2 separate regions of the Homo sapiens genome follow, and region 1 is linked to region 2. Evidence: fine-mapped expression QTL. Tissue or cell type: testis. Region 2 holds a variant in brackets; the other region holds the start of a gene. All regions are shown on one strand. Distances are between the middles of the regions.

The links. PIP is the estimated chance that this variant, and not a neighbour inherited with it, causes the effect.
Region 1: CNTN4 starts here. The variant in region 2 is fine-mapped to the expression of CNTN4 in testis (GTEx, PIP above 0.99).

What each region holds. Positions count from the first base shown.
Region 1 is chr3:2,094,596-2,102,703 of GRCh38, reverse strand. It overlaps CNTN4 (contactin 4), which reads right to left and starts at 3,838. Exons shown (of 25, transcript NM_175607.3): 1 at 3,726-3,838; 2 at 2,065-2,146. It overlaps LOC124909338 (a long non-coding RNA gene), which reads left to right and starts at 4,449. Exons shown (of 2, transcript XR_007095785.1): 1 at 4,449-4,557; 2 at 4,746-5,123. RefSeq lists an enhancer at 7,275-7,882.
Region 2 is chr3:3,047,235-3,055,342 of GRCh38, reverse strand. It overlaps CNTN4 (contactin 4), which reads right to left. Exons shown (of 25, transcript NM_175607.3): 24 at 1,368-1,536. The region is part of intron 1 of CNTN4-AS1 (CNTN4 antisense RNA 1); the gene reads left to right. Among named protein-coding and RNA genes, the nearest start is that of CNTN4-AS1, 9.9 kb to the left of the region's middle. The variant G/A (reference allele first, on the strand shown) is at 3,750.

The sequences.
Region 1 (8,108 bases), 950 kb after region 2:
ACTCATTCCAGTTCTGGGCAATTAACATCCTCCCAAGTCTTCCTCTTTCCAATGGCTTGATGCAAGTAAGCACAGTGACCCTGCTGAAGACGGCAAGGGCACAGAACAGATGAAGGCTGGGTCTCTGAATCACACTTTGAAGGAGTACTGCCATGATCACCCATTCTGGGACTTCACACAACCGAGAAATAAATATATTTCACATCTGAGGCAGTATCCCTTTTGGATCTGTTATATCTGCTAAAGAGCCAATCTAAAAGAGCCAAGCTCTTGACCCATGTTGACTCATGCTCTCATGTTTAATCCCTATCGTGATGCCGTGAAATAGATGTTATCCCAATTTTATACCTAAAGAAACTAAGGCTCACAGAAATTAAGGAACTACATTGCCCAGGACTGTAAATGTAATAAATGATGGTGCCAGACTTAGATTCAGGTTAATCTGCTTCAAGGTTTATGAACTTTCCAGCCTCCACACAACACTGCAATGTGGAAAGTGTCCTTCCAATCCTCCCTCATTTACTCCTTGGATTCTTCACTTCCTGACCATTGGTACTTAGTCTTTAAACTAAAACTCCATTTTTTAAAATTCACCTGTATGTCTACTTTGGGAGATCTAAGATGACATCTCCAAAACACATTCATCCTTTACACCTCATTCTATCCACATATGAGTCCATGAGAGGAAAACAAGTGTGCTTAATCTATTTGTTACAGAAGATATAGAAGTGTAGCAGTTTTACAACTGGCTAGAGTATCAGAGATGATGAACAGCAGAGCAGAGATAAGGAGAGAAAGATTTTAAAAATATCAAACCAGCAGTGATCTTTAAAGTGTGCTACACACCCCAGGGGCTGTACAAAATGATCCACCGGGATACATAACAGCAACATGAGACCTTCTATTTCATAATTTTTGCTTTATTCATCTTTTTTGTTTCTTTGTGTGTTTTATAAGTAGTGTATCATATAACAGCATGTCTTCAGTTTATAAATAAATTTTATTGATATGTTGTCAGATTTCTTCTGATAGTAAATAATAATAATAATGAAGATCAATAAATCTAGGCAGTAAATCCTGCCTCCTTGCCTCCTTCACTAGGCTTAAAACATAGCATTACAGGGAAAAATGAACAAAAAGGAACAAAAAAAATCAGTGTGTAGAGACTTCCCCCTGCCTATCATATGAAATAGACTTATTCAACTAAAATAATATAAAAGCAAGTTTTTACAAAATATTAATTTTTAAGATAAGAGAGATTGAAGCTAATGCATATTATGTCTGTCCTCAAATATAACAAAGAAGAAACAACAAGTTAAAATCATGATCAGACAAACTTGTAGAAAAGTCAGTACCATGCATGGGAATTTTCTGCTGAGCAGCTTTATTTTTTTAAGACCTAAATTGAAGGAACGGATGCCCTGTATACATTTCAGAAGAAAAACTGCAGCCAAAAGATTTAGTGCTTAGATCGGAAAAGAAATCAGAAGACCTACTTTTGAACAAAAAGGAGAGAGAAGTAGGTAAAATAAGTGAATGATAAAAAATCCAACATCATTTGAAAGGTTTGTTCTCTAATCACTCTTAATTACCTGCCAATATGAAATGACCATGGAAAAAGGTACTGCATTGACTCCCAATTGACTTGAAAAGTTTTACAACTCAAAGAAACTGAAAAGTGTTGTTTAAAAAACTGCAAATAGGAAAATCTACCTCTGTTGAAACTTACATGTGGCTCTGACATGCACCCTTATCCAAGTCACTTCTCTTAGACTCTTAGTCTTTAATTGAAAAGGTCAGTTTTTCCATCCTTGCCAGCTACCTCCCAGGGTTCAGATGGAAAAATAATGACGTTTATCAGCATCATCTCTCCTCAACAAGACAGAGCAGTTGAAACCAGCTTCAACAAACAAATCAATAGCTATTTTATAAGGTAGCAAAAATAATATTCTCATGAAACTTGTTTTTGATCCTTAGCAATCTTACCTACTCCTGCGACCCACTGCAGATATTCCCACAAAATCTTTAAAGAAATCAAGATAAAAATAGCAAGAATAAACTTACGGGTAACGTGAATTTTCTCATGAATGCCACCCAAATCACCTCCAGGTGCCTGTCTTCATGACACACTGTTCTTTTTCACCCACTTGGGTAGAGAGAGAGAAAGAGAGAACAAACTTGCTATTAGGCAGACTTGGGAACGCTATTGTATGGACCTGCTCATAGGCAACCTATACAGTCTTTACGCTCCTACCCCACTCTCTAAAGGACATAAACCAGAAATCTCAAAAAACAAAAAAATACAAGCGCGTTCCAAATTATCTTGTGTGGGTATCCAAACGACTCAGTTATGTGGAGTTACTCCTTGAACTATCCAGCTCCCACTACAGAAAATTGAAAGAGCTTCCCATGCAGTTAAATGCCACTGTTATTCTGACAAACATGTGCCCGCCCCTATGTTGATTCCAGCAGGAAAACTAGAAAAAGTTCCACGACATTCCTTTCAGGAACTCCTCTTACAAATAAACCTCCAACACACCTCAAGATCCGGCCCACTCTCCTCCACGCAGACCACACACCCAGGGTGCTCAGTCACACTGACTCGCCCTACACAACCTCCGCCAGCTTCTTCGCACCGAATCTGCAGACCCTGGCCAGCAAGCAACCGCCTGATCTTCCCGACGCGCGAAGCCGCCTCCTCGCAGGAGCTTCGCTGCGAAATGTTTCCATGCAGCCGACTCTCTGGCTGGTTCAGAGGGATTCAGGAGCCCACGTCCTCCTACCCTCACCTCCACACCCTTCATAAATAGTAAAACATATACACGAAGCACAAGAGAGAAAATGCACGAAGATTTTGAGCCCCGCGTTCCAGAAGGAGAGTGAGTGGATTGGGGTCTGTGGGGCGCCCGGCGCACAGTTCGCCGCCGTCTGGGCCCGGGGAGGGGACGGGGCGGTTGTCTTGCCTCTCGAAAGAAACTGGAAACCCCCCAGAAGTTGCTGGAAACGAATGCCACCCAACAGGCTCCCGCGGCAGAGACTGGGGAAGCCAGGTACCTTCCCTAAGAGCAGGCACCTGGCCTGTCGCTCGCCGCCGCAGCCTCAGCGCTCAGCAGCCAGCCCGGCACCCAGCGGGCGCCACAGACATCAGCCTCCGTCTCCACGCGGCTCCTTCCACCACGGCTACGGGCTCCTGTTCCTTTAGTCCCAGGTCCCTCCACTCCCCAGGTTCGCGTCCCTCTGCTGCGGGCTGTGACTGGGCTGTCAGAAGAAAAGCCCCGCCGGGAACCCGGCGCCAGAGGCCAGGGCGCACGGAGAGGGGGCAGTAGCCCGAACCAGTCGGAGGAGCTGACTTGAAGGCTTCCCGCAGCATTCCGGGCTCTCGGTTCCTTGTTTTGTGGCTGCCTCGCAGCGCAACAAACTTATTTTCCGGCTGAGAAGGAGAAGAAGGGTCGCTGTGGGGTGACGGTGGCGTCGTCGGGGCCCTGAGTCCTCCGCGCTCAGGCGTTCAGCTCCCGCTCCCCGACCCTGCAGGGCTTCCGGGCTCTGAGCTGGACGGCCCCGCAGACGCTGCCCGGCCCCGCGGGAGTCAGAGCCCCGGGAAGCGCCCCTGTCCTTCGGGCAACCCGCGCGGACCCTGCCCTTTCCCCCCCACACCCGCGACCGCGTCCCCGGGGCATCGCGCGCCCACGCAGGAGCCGGACCCGCACAGCTGCCGCCTCACTTACCTCAGCACCGGGGCGCCGGGCTGGCGAGAGCCTCGGGTGCGGCGCCGGCACAGTCCGAGGGGCCCGGGGCGGCGGCGAAAGCTCCCTACTTGCAGCCAATCCTGGCGTCGAACCCCGGGCTCCGTCTGGCGCGGCGCTGCCCTCCCTCCCGGCGCTCGCGGCGGCTGGAAAAACCTGGCGCGCCGGAGTTCGGGCTGCCGGCTCCTTAGCCGCGGGGCGGGGGAGACGCTCGGGGAAGGGGAGAGGCGCGGGCGGGTGGGAACGGGCGGGAGACGAGCGGGGACGGGGAGACGCGCCGGAGGCCCGGAGCCCGCGCATGCTCAGTGCGCGGCCGGAGGAGGCGAGCGCTGGGGACGCAGCACCTGCCCCGCGCGGCCGAGAGGCGGCAGCCCCAGGTCCCCAGCGCGCGAAATTAGTAAAGGGCGCCTGGCCCGATTCTCAGGCAAGAGGAGATTATCAGCCGGATTCCCGTGCGGGGACGTAGGGGTTGCGTTGTTCAGCGGCCAGGGATGCGCCGAGGCGATGTCTCCTCCCTTTACAACCCGAGTATCGGGGCACGAGGAGGCGCGACCTTCCTGGGTACCCAAACCTCTGGCCTCCGGGAGACGCGGAATTCGGGGGATCGTTAAGGCGCCCTGGCCAGGGAAACAGATGCTTCTGCGTCTGGGCTGAAAATTGCTGAACCGGGGAATGTGGGTGGGCGGGTGGCATTGAACTTAGGCCAGAAGAGGGGGCTTTGGTAGGTTTTTACCTGCCTGTCCTTAGGCGGAGGACACTGGCTGGACAGGCTGCGTTACACACCTGAAGTCTCATCCACGCAAAGTGCTTTCAGGTTGGAATGTGGGGCGGGGGCGGGGGGAGGTCAGAGGGAACAGTTGCTGTAAATTAGGTACAAGGATCAATTTGTGGTGTGTTGTGCGCGGGGGTGGGGCATGTCGAAAGCCTTGTTATTCGAAAGAATGTGCTTTGAACGACGTTGCCACGGTCATTCTACATTATGAATCTACTGTTTCCTTGCAGAAGTGGCTCCCTTCGCCGCAACTCCACACCTCGGGGTAACCGTAGAGATTGGCAGCAATGCCCCAGCCCCTCACCAGCACTGTGCAAAGTGACTTTGACAGGCAGAGAAAAGCCAACCCAGTCGAATTCGTCTGGAAAGCATTCCAGCAACCCAGAGAGGAGCCTCTGTTTCTCTCTCTGGGAAAAAGCCCCAAGGGTTTTGCTGAACCCAGGTCTTCCTGCTCATCTCTCAGCAGTTCAGAGCTACATAAACAACTTCTGACCATTTACGCAATCATGTAAACCTACCCTGACATCTCCACTATGTGGAAAAGATGTTAACTGGAAAACTATTTTTAAACTACTGCAGTAAGCAAATAAACATCCAACTCCAACATATATATGCAGCAGCCTTATTAGTTCATTCAGTGTTGGTTTGGTTTGTTTGTTTTGTCTTCTGCTTTTTAGAATTAATTATTATCTTTATAATTCCTGTTCGAGAAGTGGGCAAAACCAGGCTAGTGATAGGTATTGTTGTGGTCAAATTTTTCATCACTTGAAATTCCATGACTTTCATGATTGCTGAGATTAATGCTAAATAAAGAAGTTACCCCCCCGCCCCCACCCCACCCCAACCTCCCCACCAAAGTTTCCTGATTACTTAAACTTGGAGAGAAATTTTCAGGCTTTTTCCTCCCTCCTTGCCTGGTATGTGTCTGTAATAGAGGTACTTTTGCAAAACTGGAATGTTGGTGATGCAGGTGTTTTCCATGGTAAACAGCCACTGAGGATCAATGGTTCCCAGGTTCCCACTCACTTTGAAGGCTTTTGTGCTTCTGCCGGAACTGTGACTTTTACTACCTGTACTATGTATGATTTTTTTTTACATTGATTATTTCTCTGCAACTAGTCAATTAAAAGTACATATATATAACTTTTAGTAAGACTGTTTATCAAAATATGCTTCACCAGAAGTTCTCCAGAAAATATTCCTGTGTAGTCATGCATACTCCTAACACATTAAAGGGAAATGTCGTGTTTTAGACTGGACACAGAATTTCAGAAAAGAACAAAGAATAAAATATGCTGTCACATTCTCCCACTGGGACTATACATTGAAGCAATTTTCAAAGTTTTATGACAATTTCAGGCAAAGTCCCTTAACTGTGTTTCTAAATTTCAAATGTACATATTTTGTTTCCATTCTCCCCTTTGGCCCTTATTCTGTGCCTGCTATATGCTAGGCATTGTCTTCTAGTAGATTCTGGGAAACAAACTAAACATGACCAAGACTTGCTCCACAGTTCACCATGTAGTTAGGAAAACAGACATTGTGTATCTGGAGAGACAGATTTGGGTCGTGTTGAGGGGATATCAGTTAAACGTTAAGTTAGGAGGAGGCATTTTTTCTTTTCACCAACACACCCCCACACTGATCCAGTGCTAAGCTTGTTCAGTCCCTCCCCAACATTTTCTCTAGAACAGCAGCTAGTTTAAAATGCAGCCAATAATCCAGTCCCTTTTTTCCATCCTGCAGCAAAGAAGCGATGCTCAGCTGCCACCTCTGCCAAGATAGAAAGCCTCTTGCGGAAGCTCCCAGGATTGGGGAGTGTTCCTAATAGACTCAACCCCTGTCAGGGGACAGAAATGGTTTATTTTGATGACAACAGCCTCACACGTGTGTCTCTACATATCCAGGACCCCGACTGCGTGTCCGTTTCTTGATCAGGGGACCTGTGATTGGGATTCTCTGGAGGGGAATGTTCCAAACGAATCAATTAACGCCCCCAGCAGCAAGTTCAATACCACTGCACTGAGACCCAGCTCTGTATCATTGCATGAATGAATTACTGGTGCTCATGTAATTTGCAAATAATCATCATTCTAACACAGTGGAAAATTTCTCCTGCCCGTTTAGCCTGAGTAGCAGCTGAGCAGAGAGCTGCAATAACCCTCACAACACCCTCCAAAATAACTATTTACACATATGTGAAGTTTTACATCCAGGTCTTTTAATATGGGAGTATCTACATAGACACAAGGTCACCTCTTACACTCATTAAACCAATTGAATGAGGACTGATAACTCTTAAGGGAAATCAACGCTGAAACCGCTTTTGACTTTTTGGAGACATGAATGGAATACATCATCAGGTTTTACTCAGCATGCAACCGTTGTGCAAACTCCAGAAAGGGCATCTCTCTGTCCCACTCCCCCATTACCCCTGCCTTATTCCTTCTCTACACATCTGAAGATTTGATAAGTGGGGATTTACTGTAAGAGGAGGAAAGAGGAAAAGCATCACAGGAAAAGAAATACCTCTTTTCTGACCACATCTGATTTGATGCTATTTTCTCCTTACTCCTGGCATCCAGTGGGATTTTAAAAAACTCATATATGCCACCTTTCTTTGTTCTAAATGACTTGAATAAGGTCGTTCAATGGCAGGAGCGACTCAATCAGATAAAAATGTGCAGGTTTTATAATTACGGTTTTACTTGTTTAATGTATAGCTACCTGAATAGATCTTCAAGCATAAAGTAGCAATTATCCCATCCCTGATTTTAAAATATAAACTCAAGTTTGCTTTAATTAAGTAGATAAATCAGTATTTAAATAAACAATTGTATCAAGAAGAGCTTTGTGTTCAGTTTCGAACTGGAGTATAATAAAGTAGAACTCAGCTAAGGACTTTCAAACCAGCCTTGCAAAGCTTCCTTCTATGCAATTGTTTTAGGTGACTGATTGACACTTAAGCTTTAAACTAAGGACATTGGACTAATAATGGGCCCATACTGGGATAATGATAATTAGCACACAAAAGCACAGTTAATTGCCATGAAGGTTGGACACAGACTGACAGATAGAGTCAAAGTAAACTAGAAACCTGACACCCCAGCCAAGATTCCTTTATAAACGTGGCTGTGAGACACCCACTGAATTTAAACATAATAAGGTGGAATTAGGGACCAATCAACTGTTTTCTTAGCCACACGTTTTCCAGATTTTTTTGGATTCTTTATACAAAATCCAAAAATAATTGTTCCAAAGGTCTATTAGTTGCAAAAGTATTTATAGTTGATTTCTGATGTCCTCAGTAATTATGTTCTATAAAGTCACTGCAAACACTGGAGACAATAAAGGGTTATGTTCCTGACAGCCTCTGGTAACAAGATTTTCATCAACTGATAAAGATACCTTCTTTAATATATACTGTTGATTCATTAACATAGAACTCATGGCCTGCAGCACTGTAATTCTTGCCTGAACAAAACTTATCTAACACATGTATTTTCTCTGTGAGGCACATCACAGCTTTCTTTTGCTTAGGAATGCTAGACAGCACTCCAGCACTGTGCTCGAGGCCATTTTAAGCAGCAAAA
Region 2 (8,108 bases):
TCAGTCTATCTAAAAATGTCAATCCCTGCAATGATAAGAAAGTATGAAGTATAAAGTCAGATTTTTAATGAAGCGAGATAAGCCCCAATCTTGTATTTTTGTGGCCTGGAGATTTTACTTCCACATCTCACCAAAAATCTAGCTCCCTTTCGATAGAAGTTAGAGGCTTTGTTTGATAAAGTATAATCCAATTGTCCCCCTTTTAAGACAAAAATGCCTTTTGTGTTTGTATGCAAAAAAGATGCAGTAAATATAAACTCCATCCAGAAACACTGGCATATCACCCCTTAGCAGAGGGATGTCACATGGCTAAAAGTCAGGATGGTGGTGAGGATTTTGTCCATAATTTAAAATATCATCTTTTTACCAATGTCTTGAAAATTTATACCTCCAGCCTTCACTGCTCCCCTAATCTCCAGACTGAAATCTGAAAGCCTGTGAAAGTCTACACTTAGATATCTAACCACAGTCTTTTTTTTATTGCTGTAAAATACACATAACAAAATTAGCATTTTAACTCATTTAAAATGTACAAATCAGTGGTACTAAGTATACTCCAGTGTTGTGCAACCAGCACCACTCTCAAGCTCCATAACTTTTGTGTCACCCCAAATGAAGACCCAGTGCCTAAACCCCCATTCCCCACTGACCAGCCACTGCCAATCACTAGCCTCACTTCTGTCTCCACGGATTTGGCTATTTTGTTTTTTTTCTTTAAATAAATGAGATCACACACAACAACAAAAAAATCATGCTCTTAAGATACTTACAAACATGGTATTTGTAAAAACAGAATTGAATGTATTTGCTCAAAAAGAATATGCTATTCTCCCATGCTATTCAACAACATTTGAAAGTGAAGATAATCTTGACTATAGAGAGACATACACATTGATGCACATGTTGCATATACCCATTGAAAATAAGTAGTAAATTCCAAATATTTCCAAGATACTGAACTGCATACACTGTTTCACTGGAGAAAAACTGCTACGGCATACTTAACAATGCTTGTCCTTGTTCCTTCTGACTGAGTCAATGCTTTTCACTTTCTAAACTGTAATTCTGGGGCTACAATAGATGCAATGCAAACTACACAGGTTGACACGGAAAAACCTTAGTGACTAATTCGGGTCTGCTTTAATCTGATTTTTGATTAGCAACTGAGTAGATCAGTCAACACGGGCAAACTGATTTTTGCATGAAACTGCCTATGGCCAGCAAACATCTGGAGAAGGGGGGTAGTGTTCTCCATTTCTATTTTAAGTCTGCTTTTGCAGGCTGAATGTCTTTCAAGCCCTGACTCATCTGGAAGGCTGATAAGATAAGACAGGCAGGAGAAAAGGGAGAAAAAAAGGCATTCTCACTTGATATCTTTGGAATTCGAATTTGTTCACTGCTGCTGCCATCTCCTCCGTCGCTGAATGGCTTAATTTCTATTATATAATCTTCATCGAAAGGCAAAGAAAGCTCCACCGATGTTTTATTTGTTTCAATGACAGATGTGCTGCTTTGTCTGTTCCATCTGTACAAGACCTGCCAATACAGAAAGAACAGGTGTCACCTGCCGTCTTCACAAAGGTCCCAAATATGGAGCATTCATTTGTTTTCACCTCTGGGCACGAGCAAAATGCAGGGATGTAGAGGTTGTCTGGCTGCCCACTTGCATTTGGAAGGCTCATTTGCAGTGAGGGCCATGACTGCAGCTACCATTTTATTCCAAGGAAAGAGCTGAAAGGATATTATATCAGGGGCATCAGCAACGTGATTCTACCTACTGCCTAGCCTCTCGGAGGCTCAGTTGACACTCTTGGGAAAGTGGAAAATATGAGTAGCTCCTTAAGGATGTACAGTGCTCAGTTACACATCGGTGCTTTGGCATCAGAATAAACTTGGCCACTGTGGGATCACAGGCCACTTCACCTTTCAGAGCCTCACTTCAGTCATCTGTAAAAGGGGGACAATAATACCCAGTCTTCTGGAGTGTGTTTTCAAGATTGCACAAGGAGGCTGGGTGCAGTGGCCCATGCCTATAGTGTCAGCACTTTGGGAGGCCAAGGTGGGTGACTCACTTGAGGCCAGGAGTTTGAGACCAGCCTGACCAACATGGCGAAACCCTGTCTCTACAAAAAATACAAAAATTAGCCAGACATGATGGCACACACCTGTAATCCCAGCTACTCCAGAGGCTGAGGCAGGAGAATTGCTTGCACCCGGGAGGCAGACGTTGCAGTGAGCCGAGATCAAGCCACTGCACTCCAGCCTGGGTGACAGAGCAAGACTGTCTCAAAAATATAAAAATACAAAAGATTGCACAAGGTTTGAATCTGGTGATGGCCTAGCTTAGAGGAAGCATGTAAGAAATAGTATCTCTGAAGGCTTAAAGATAATCAGAGAACATACATGGCAAAGGTTAGAGCACAAGCCAGGCACAATAAGTTATGATCACGACTCTTAGAGACAGGACATTTCAGCACAGGGAGAAGATATCGGAAAGGCAAGAGTAGTAACCTCCCATTCCTTTCCTCTGGAACCCCACTTTATGGGGCTAGGTAGCCAAGAGGCAACCATTGTCACCCTGGACATATCTGCAGCTTGCAACAGTCCTGTTTTCATCTTGGGCCCCCCATGGGTTCTGAGTTTGGAGGTGGATTCATTTGATGAGGTGGCCAACTAGCCTCCTAAAAACACATTCACTTACCTGGGATTGCCTGCTGTGATTGGATTTACTCCAATCAGGAACAAAATATACAGGTCTGGGAAAGTGTGCCTTTACCTATAGAACCACTAAAGCTCATCCTCTGTAGTTTCCCCTGACAAAAAGATAGGGTTGGATGAGGTCAGTGGTTTTTGGTCCTGGCTGCATGTTAGAACCATTGGGGTGCTTGTAAAATACTTATGCTGTAGCTCAGTGGTTTTCAACAGGGTGGGAGGGGCAGGGGAGCAATTTTGCCTCACAGGGAGGTATCTGGCAATGTCTGCAGACATGTTTGTCAAAACATGTCCTCCTGTTGTAGTGGATAGAGAGACCAGGGATGCTGCTGAACAGTCTACAATGCACAGAGCAGCCCCGCAACAAAGAACTCTCTAGCTCAAAGTGTTGACTGTGAGGAGGTCAGTAACCCCGCTCCAGTTCCACTCTAGCCTGCCTAAGACTGCACAGAGGTGGGATCCATGCTGTAGTTGTTTTCTAAAAGATCATCAGGAGATGTTAATATGGGATAGGCATCATGATTAGATGAATTAGACGCGTAGTTCTCAAATTCAAGCGTGAACAGAATCACCTGGAGAACTTGTTAGAACACAAATTGCTGGGCCCCATTCCTGGAGTTTGTGATTAGTTCTGGGATGGGACCTGAAAATCTGCATTTCTGACAAGTTCCCAGCTAATGCCAGTGCTGATGGTCCAGGGATCATGCGTTGAGAAGCACGAGATTAGCTCATCCTTCCCTAAGATCCCTTATAAATTCTGATCTGCTGAGGCTACAGACATAAGGTCACTCTTGTGTCTCAAGACAAAACCAGACACAAGTGAAATTCATAAAATTCCTTTAGAATGGTTTAGAACCCATCTGTTCCCTGGCATTTCATCACCTTAATTTATATCTCTCTAACACAAGGTGGAAAACACAATTTCCTTAAGGTAGAAAGATTCATAAGTGTCCCCTTCTTCTCCGCAGCATCAGTTGTATCAGACCCAGCATCCCCTTGCTGATGATTAGGCACAGATAAATCCTCAGGCACATTCA[G/A]GAGTGTCAAAGCTTCTCATCACGGCCCTCCAGGAGAATGGGCTGATGGGATGCAAGGTCACATCTGGCTTTGAGGAATAAATTGCTGCTTTGATTTACCTCTGGTCCTTGCAAGAGCTCAGAGGATTCAACTTGTTTCAAATATAAATCCAAAAGAAACACTTCCAGGAAAAAGCAGCACTTTTATCAGCACTGCTTATCAGTCTTGCAGTATTATGGACTGCAGCAGAACCCAAATAAAGTCCTGTAAAGCCTTTATTTACACCAAACACTTGCTTGAGCTGATTGAAGGCTGTGCTTGCATTTGATATAATCTAGGGTGGAAGACAAGGGGAAAGAATGGATTTGTGGGAATAATGATAATAGCAAATATTATAGACTACTTCCACTATTTAATGTCTGAACACTGTGTGTTCTAAATCAGGGGTGTCCAATCTTTTGGCTTCCCTGGACCACACTGGAAGAAGAAAAATTGTCTTGGGCCACACATAAAATACACTAACACTAATGATAGCTGATGAACTTTTAAAAAATTGCAAAAAACATCTTACGATGTTTTAAGAAAGTTTATGAATTTGTGTTGGGCCACATTCAAAGCCATCTTGGGCCACATGTAGCCTGTGGGCTGTGGGCTGTACAAGCTTGTTCTAAATGCTTATGTGGATAACCTCTTAAGGAAGGCAATGTTATTATTCTGATTTCAAAGATGAGAACTTGAGATGTGGAGATGTGAAGCAATTGCCCGGTCTCATGACTGGTAAGTGGCGGATCCTGCATTCAAACCTAGGCAGTCTGGCTCCAGAGCCTGGATTTTTTTTTTTTTTTTTTTTGAGACGGAGTTTCACTCTTATTGCCCAGGCTAGAGTGCGATGGTGTGACCTCAGCTCACTACAACCTCCGCCTCCCGGGTTCAAGCAATTCTTCTGCCTCAGCCTCCCAAGTAGCTAACATTACAGGCATGCGCCACCATGCCCTGCTGATTTTATATTTTTAGCAGAGACGGGGTTTCACCATGTTGGTCAGGCTGGTCTCAAACTCCTGACCTCAGGTGATCCACCCACCTCGGCCTCCCAAAGTGCTGGGATTACAGGTGTGAGCCACCGTGCCCGGCCTCAGAACCTGGATTTTTAACGAAGACTACCTTGGCTACCACCTGTAGGGCTCTGGGCAAATTGCTTTCCCTCTCTGGCATCTGTCTTTGGGAACACAAACCAAGGGAGTTAGACAGCAAAAAACTAGTGGCCCATGGGTCATAACCAGCCTGCATATATTATTTGTTTGGCTGTCATAGTGTTATTTTTTTTGAGTTAGACATGAACATTTAAAAACCGAGAAATTAGACATTAAAAATTTGTGGGTTCTACTGAAAAACTGGAAGATATGGCCACACTGGTTGCTATGCTTTGGATGCTTGTCCTCTCCAAAACTCATGTTGAAATTCGCCATTTTAACTGTATTAACAGGTGAACCTTGAAGAGATAATTAGGCCATGAGGTGATTAGGCTCACCCTCACAGATGGAATTAGCACTGTTGTAAAAGGGCGAGTCAGCTCTCTATCCCTCTCCCTCCCAGCACTGGGTGTCAATAAACTTCTGTTCATATTAATTGCCCAGTCTCAGGTATTCTGTTCCTGAGTAAGACTCTACAAAAGTGCGATCCAGAATAAAATAGACTAAGCCAGTGATCTATATTCCTGTCTGCCAACAACTGGTTGGAGTTGAGAAGTCTCATTCTGAACAATCACAAACTCTGCAGTTGGTGATAGTCCCAACACTTCCAATGTTGCTACATTGTCACATGCCTACCTCTGGACCTTTGCACTTCCTTTTTTGCAGTACTTGGGACATTCCCAGAGAGGTGCCAAGGCCCAACTGAAATCTCACCACTTAAAAGTGGCTTTCCTTGGCCTTTCTATAAAATAATACATCTCTCCTGTCCACTCCATGGCTTTCTCTATTCCCCTCACTCTAGCCTCTTTTTCTCTGCAGTACTTTGTTATCACTTATTCTATTTATTTATGGCTGGTAGGCAGAAGCACCAAGTGGCTAAATGTAGAACTCAGGATCCATACTGCTGTATTCGGATCCCAGGTCTTCAACATACCAGCTGTGTGAAAGGCAAGTGACTAAACTCTATGCCACAGCTCTTCATCCGTAAAACTAGCAATAATAACTGTACCTATCTTCATGGTTATTATACAGTTAAGATGAGGCCAGGCATGGTGGCTCATGCCTGTAATCCCAGCACTTTGGGAGGCTGAGGCAGGCGGATCACCTGAGGTCAGGAGTTTAAGACCAGCCTGGCCAACATGGTGAAACTCCATCTCTACTAAAAATACAAAAATCAGCCAGTCGTGGTGGTGGGCGCCTGTAGTCTCAGCTACTTGGGAGGCTGAGGCAGGAGAACTGCTTGAACCCTGGAGGCGGAGGTTGCAGTGAGCCAAGATTGTACCACTACACTCCACCTTGCGTGACAGAGGGAGACTCTGTCTCAAAATACAACAAAATAAAATATAAAGTTAAGATGAATTGGAACAGTGCTTAGTAGACGTATTAGTAGTAGTTTCTGAATGGACTGAACAGAACTCATTTATGTTATCTGCCTGGCCCTGCAGGTAGTTTAATTTGTGATACTAAAACCAGATGCTCTCCTTTTAGCTCTAATGCCATAAAGTAGCTTAAGGATTTGTGTTGACAAAATATTTGGGGCCTTAAACTTTCTAAAGTCAGCTTCTTGTTGAGACTGTCTACCTAAGCTGAGATCTAAAGAATTCAGACAACTTAGTGAAGAAGGGAAAATAAACCCACACCCCAACATGTTCAGTATTTGGGAGGAAAACTTAATTTTGGAAAGGGTCAGTCTGAGATAAACAATAGCCATATTTAATGGGTCAAATTCTCTAGCAAAGGTCAACTCTTCCGTTGCAATCAGATCCGCTTTTTATTCAGCCTCTAATCTCACCCTAAAAGTGACACTAGGGAGAGTTTCCTGAGCTATCATGGGACGTGAGATATCACGGGAGGTACCACACATACACACACACAAATACACACACACACACACACACACACACACAGAGAGAGAGAGAGAAAGAGAGAGAGTTATTCATTGGTACCTTGGTAATTCAGGGAACTGGCTTCAGGACCTCCCTAAAATACCAAAATCTGTGGATACTCAAGTCCTGGATATACAATGGTATAGAATTTGTGTATAACCTAAGCATATCTTTCCGTATACTTTAAATCAACTTTAGATTACTCATAATACCTAATATAATGTAAATGGTATGTAAATAGTTGTTATACTGTATTGTTTTTAAAATCTGTGTCATTTTCATTGTATTTTTTTGTGTGTTTTTTTTCCTGAATATTTTTGATCCACATTTGAGAGTATGGAACCTGTGGATACCTGTAGCTTTAAATTATGTATCTCTAAACATTCACATGTATATGTAGCAATTCAAAATGTATAGCCAGTTACAGTGACCTTCCTTGGGGTGTAGTTGAGGAGGTGTAGGGTGTCTGGCTCTTCCAGTACCACTCCTAAAAAGAAGGGGGAGTGACTGAGCTGGAAATTAAGAAGAACTCAGAAAGTGTCCTTTCCTACCATCTGGTCTAACCCTGTTACCCACTCTCAAGGGTGGTGATATCCCCTTGATCATTTTTTATTGCATCTATTTGATTCTTCTCTCTTTTCTTCTTTATTAGTCTTGCTAGCAGTCTATCAATTTTGTTGATCTTTTCAAAAAACCAGCTCCTGGATTCACTGATTTTTTGAATGGTTTTTTGTGTCTCTATCTCCTTCAGTTCTGCTCTGATCTTAGTTATTTCTTGCCTTCTGCTAGCTTTTGAATGTGTTTGCTCTTGCTTCTCTAGTTCTTTTAATTGTGATGTTAGGGTGTCAATTTTAGATCTTTCCTGCTTTCTCTTGTGGGCATTTAGTGCTATAAATTTCCCTCTACACACTGCTTTGAATGTGTCCCAGAGATTCTGGTATGTTGTGTCTTTGTTCTCGTTGGTTTCAAAGAACATCTTTATTTCTGCCTTCATTTCGTTATGTACCCAGTAGTCATTCAGGAGCGGGTTGTTCAGTTGCCATGTAGTTGAGCGGTTTTGAGTGAGTTTCTTAATCCTGAGTTCTAGTTTGATCGCACTGTGGTCTGAGAGACAGTTTGTTGTAATTTCTATTCTTTTACATTTGCTGAGGAGTGCTTTACTTCCACCTATGAGGTCAATTATGGAATAAGTGCGATGTGGTGCTGAGAAGAATGTATATTCTGTTGATTTGGGGTGGAGAGTTCTGTAGATGTCTATTAGGTCTGCTTGGTGCAGAGCTGAGTTCAATTCCTGGATATCCTT